2 separate regions of the Homo sapiens genome follow, and region 1 is linked to region 2. The links come from fine-mapping of genetic effects on gene expression. Tissue or cell type: regulatory T cells. Region 2 holds a variant in brackets; the other region holds the start of a gene. All regions are shown on one strand. Distances are between the middles of the regions.

Evidence for each region. PIP is the estimated chance that this variant, and not a neighbour inherited with it, causes the effect.
Region 1: it holds the start of NALT1, and the variant in region 2 is fine-mapped to the expression of NALT1 in regulatory T cells (Bossini-Castillo 2019, PIP 0.95).

Annotation. Positions count from the first base shown.
Region 1 is chr9:136,546,534-136,549,036 of GRCh38, reverse strand. It overlaps NALT1 (NOTCH1 associated lncRNA in T cell acute lymphoblastic leukemia 1), which reads right to left and starts at 1,195. Exons shown (of 3, transcript NR_121577.1): 1 at 936-1,195. RefSeq lists an enhancer at 1,221-2,132 and a silencer at 2,325-2,424.
Region 2 is chr9:136,818,702-136,821,452 of GRCh38, reverse strand. All of the region lies in intron 1 of RABL6 (RAB, member RAS oncogene family like 6), which reads right to left. Among named protein-coding and RNA genes, the nearest start is that of MIR4292, 11 kb to the left of the region's middle. The variant TG/G (reference allele first, on the strand shown) is at 1,252.

The DNA.
Region 1 (2,503 bases), 270 kb after region 2:
GCCTTGGGCTCAGCACCGGGAGTCTCAGCCCTGGCTGCTCCTTAGAATCTACTGCAGAGCTTTCAACACAGGCACCCCTCAAATACACCCACCCACCAGGTCACTGCTGACCCCCCTCTACTCGGACCACATCTCTCTGGGGCCGGAGCCGGCCCTGGGGTGTTTTAAGGTCACCTGGGTCTCCATGAGCTCCGTCGCTGTCCCCGTGTGCTCACCAGCTGTGCTTACCTCTCCACGCACTTAGGGGTGTGCTCTGCTCTCGAAAGTCCCCACAGCAGCCGCAAAGGAGGGGCCTGGTTGGGCCAATGTCAGCAGGGCCTCCTTAGCTCACCCTGACAATGGTACCCCCATTTCTCTGGCAGCAAACAAGGGGGAACTGACCCAGTTCAGTCTCCTGGGGTGCAACGCCTAAGCCACTCTCCCCTCAGCACCCGCAGGGGGCCTCTGAAGAAGAGAGGGCTGCAGGACACGTCTGCCTCTCCCCTCCGCAAACCAGGCTCTGCGGCCCCATCTCATCTGCTTCCAGGCTCCCTGGCCAGCTTGGGAACAGCCCCATTCATTCGGGGTACCCCTGGAACCTTGCCCCAGCTCCCACCACAAGTTGGGACAGGAAGCCCAAAGTGACTCCTACAGGGGAGGCCTGGCGGCACTGCACCCCAATTCAGCTTCTTGGGGTCCTAGCCCCCACCCTCCCATTGGGTTTCTGGAGTGGCTGGGGTGCCCTGCACACAACCTGCTCTTGTTTCTCTTTAGTCCCCGCAATGCCCGCTGCCCAGGGCTGCCTCCCGACCTGTAGGAGAAGGTCTCCAGGCCCTAGGCCAGCAGATGTACTCCTGTTGTGTCAGGACCCCAGCCTCCCCCGACTGCCCACACCCGCTGGCCTGACAAAGAGGAATGGGGAGCCCGGACAACTTGTGAATGAAAAAGCTTCTCACCTACTTGCCAGGGGCCTACCCCCTTCCCAGGCTGGTGGGGAGGTGAGGCCCATCCCCCTCATCCCTGGCTTCTCCTCGGCCACAGCTGTCCATGGGGTACTCCCGGCTGTGGGTGGTGCAGGGGTTGGGAGCTGGGAGGCCGAGGCCTGTGCTTCCCTCGGGCCTGTGCACCCGGCCGCACCATCCGTAACGCGGGCTTATGAGCGTGCCTGGCTGCTGGGTGGCCTGACGGGTGGACACCGAATGGGCCACTCTCTTCTCTGCTGGTAGAGGATGGAGGCCCAAGGTGGAGGTGCTGTCGGCACAGCTGGGGCAGACCAGGGGAGACCCCCTATCCAGGGATCCCCTCCTCCCCTCCCAGGCCGCCCCTCCGCAAAATGCTGAGGACTGGCCCCCGGGCCTGGGCTACATGGGCCATTACTTCTGGCCTGGGGCCCACAGGCAGAGATGCCAATGGAGGCACACAGGCAGTCGCACCCGCACCCGATCAGCACCAGGCCTGAGGCCTTCGGGCCTCCCTATGCCCCACCCCACCCCCACCCACCAGGAGCAGAGGACGTCGTGGTGGGCAGAGTCCTCAGCCTGGGAGCTGCACAGCCCCGCGCTTCCTTCTATGGAAAATCTGCTCCTCCAGGCTGCCTGGCTGCTGTTACATAAACATCTCTGCTGCCTCCAGGCGCCTCCTCTCCTGGGGCGCTGACCCCAAGATGTTACCCCAGGCCTGCAGAAGTGAGGCCAGATTCTGGGAGGACGCAGGCGAGGGAGGCTCCCAGCAGCAGCTACAGGGGCGGGACAGGCCGCCTGCACTGGCTGTTTCCAGAGTGCTCAGCATTTGGCAAGAGGTGTGCCAGGAAAGGCTTGCTGGGGTCAGGTGTGAGATTTGTCCTGCTTTCTGTGCCTGCCTCTGCCACCATGCTCTGGGGTTTCTGCAGCCCTCCCCCCAGGCCCCCACAGTCCTAGGTCCCTCCCAGCCTTTCGGTCTCCCCGCAGGGCAGGCTTAGCCCTCCTACTCCAGGAGGGGCGCCGGGACACGCGCCTTCTGCCATCGCACTCACCACCCTGTGTTGGGGTGGGGAGGGGGCGCTGTCTGTCCCTGGCACGAGGCCGTGAACTTTGCGCAGGGACTATGGCAGGCATTTTGGACTCCTGGCGCTTAACCAGGCTTGGCACAGGGTGCCCGTGCCTGGCATCGTGGTGGAGAAATAAATCAGCCGGAAGGAGCACGTGGGAAGGGCTGCGCCGGCGCCAGCGGCAGATCCGCCCGACCCGTTTGTGCTTTCTGGGGCCACCTTAGGCAGGCGGCGCCCGGGCAGGAGGAGGACGGTGACCGAGGAGCGTGTCGACGCGGGTCCCCCTTGGGGGAGCGGGGCACAATCCGTCCGCGAGGCACTGGTCCCGGCTGCTCCCTCGGGGCGCCCGGAGTCCCCTGCCCAGAGGCCGCGGCGCCCCCATCCCTCGCGGTCAAGTGCTCGGGCAATCACGGCCAGGGATGTCTGGCGGCGATCGATCCTCTGGACGCCTAAAGCCGCGGCCACGGGGCCCTCGGGAGGGAGTGAAGCCGCTGGGCT
Region 2 (2,751 bases):
CGAGGTCCACGGCCTGAGCGGCGGCCCTGCCTCCCCGCCCCGGCACCGCTCAGGCGGCCCACGCGCTGTGCTTCCCGGTGGTTTCCACATGCGGTGGTCCCGTCTCCGGGTCTTTCCCGGGAGTGGGGCGTTAGCAACGCGGAGAGCGCAGAGACGGTCACAGCGACCGCCCGTTTTCCCGCGGCCAGAACCAACGCGCTGACGTCCCTTGGTCCCCGCATCTCGGCTCCTCAACCCTACGGGACAGAACCCACTTCCTTCATTTTGTAAAAATGGCACATGCTCTTTGTAAGGAACTTAAACAAGGCAGACAAGCACAAGAACCAATGTTAACAAAGCCTCCCAATGCCACTGCCGGAAACCAGCCCTCATGAACGCGGGGAGCTCATTCCAGGCATCTGGCCAGTTTGGCTTCTGCAGAACGTCGGAGAGTTGGGGTCACACAGAATAATTTCTCTCACTCAGCGATACGCACTTAAGGCTCATGCAGGCCTCTCCACGGCTTGAGAACATCTTTTCAGGACTAAATAATGTTCCACCATCTGGATGCACGGAGTTGATCCATTCATCTACTGAAGGACGTCTTGGCCGCACTTTTCCTTGAATTTCCATTGATATTTTTCTCTTTTCGTAATATATATTATTCGGATACTGCAACACCCACACTCAGCCTCTGTTTATTTTTTTCATATCATTTACCAGCTGTCATTTTGCTGTGAGATTTTCCCTTTATTTTCTAAACCTTCCTTTGATTTTATTTTTGCTTTTTAAAAATTATTATTGGCCGGGCACGGTGGCTCACGCCTCTAATCCCAGCACTTTGGGAGGCCGAGGCGGGCGGATCACCTGAGCTCAGGAGTTCGAGACCAGCCTGGACAACATGGAGAAACCCCGTATCTACTAAAAATACAAAATTAGCCGGGTGTGGTGGTGGACACCTGTAATCCCAGCTACTCAGGAGGCTGAGGCAGGAGAATTGCTTAACCCCAGGAGGTGGAGGTTGCAGTGAGCCAAGATCACACCACTGCACTCCAGCCTGGGCAACAGAACAGAACCGTCTCAAAAAAAACAACAAAATTATTTTTACAAACAGGGTCTCACTGTCACCCAGGCTAGAGCCAGCACAGTGGCACCATCCTAGCTCACTGCAGCCTCAATCTCCTGGGCTCAAGTGATCCTCCCACCTTAGCCTCCCAAGTAGCTCAGACTACAGACATCTGCCAGCTAATTTTTTTTTTTTTTTTTTTTTTT[TG/G]GAAGATGGAGTCTCACTCTGCCGCACAGGCTGGAGTGCAGTGGTGTGATCTCAGCTAACTGCAACCTCCACCTACTGGATTCCAGTGATTCTCCCATCTCAGCCTCCCAAGTAGCTGGGACTACAGGCGCAAGCCGCCATGCCTAATTTTCTGTATTTTAGTAGAGACAGGGGTTCACCATTTTGCCCGGGCTGGTCTCAAACTCCTGAGCTCAGGCAATCCGCCCATCTTGGCCTCCTAAAGTGCTAGGATTACAGATGTGAGCCACCACCCCATGCCTAGTTTTTTTACTATTTTTTTCTTAGAGACAGGGTCTTGCTTTTTGCCCAAGCTGGTCTCGACCTCCTGGGCTCAAGCAATCCTCCTGCCTTGGCCTCCCAAAGTGCTGGGATTACAGGTATAAGCCACGGCACCAGTGAGGATGGTCCACTTTAATCAATGTTCCTTGAGCCTTCAGGTCCAGAGACTTTCTCTGAGCCTGCGGTAACCCTTCACATTTCTACCCGCTCTCTTTCATTTTGAAGTATATTCTGCATATGGCATCACTGTCGCTGTAGCACTAGGACTATAGCTAGAGCAGCTTTCTTATGGTTAATGTTTACCTAGTGTCTTGTTTCCAACTCCTAACTTTCAACCTTTCGACACCATTATGTTTTGGATGTGTCTCTTATACACCACATAGCCAAATTAAAGAAAAAAAAATTCCTCGAATCTCACATTCTTTCGAGCTGGTGAGTTCTGTTTACTGACAACTGCTGCTGCCATGTTATTTTATGATTTTTAGTTACAGCTCTGGTTCCCTTGCCCCTCCCCCAGCCTTCTATGCCTTTGATTAAAGCTGGACAAGGTGGTTTTCTTTTTTTTTTTTTTTTTTTCTTGAGACGGAGTCTCGTTCTGCTGCCCAGGCTGGAGTGCAGTGGCACCATCTCGGCTCACTGCAAGCTCCGCCTCCCGGGTTCACGCCATTCTCCTGCCTCAGCCTCCCGAGTAGCTGGGACTACAGGCGCCCGCCACCACGCCCGGCTAATTTTTTGTATTTTTATTAGAGACGGGGTTTCACCATGTTAGCCAGGATGGTCTCGATCTCCTGACCTCGTGATCCACTCGCCTTGGCCTCCCAAAGTGCTGGGATTACAGGCGTGAGCCACCGCGCCCGGCCTGGACAAGGTGGTTTTCAGAAAGTATTCTTTCTACCTGGTATTTATTTGGAAGATTTGCAACCTGTTTCTACACTTTGGGAACCCTTAAGTTTTCAACACTCACATCTGCTGCAGTGAAGTCTGAAGTTAACACTTCTTCTTAATAATAATATAGAGATCTGAACGCCTTGACTGTCCAGCTTCACCCTGGGCTGTGTTACTTCTGGTAGTTTCTTCTTTTATATACCCTATATAAATCATGATCACCACTGATTAACATAACCAACGCTTATTCCTTTTCTTTCCTTTTTTTTTTTTGATTAAGTCTCACTCTGTTGCCCAAGCTGGAATGCAATGAT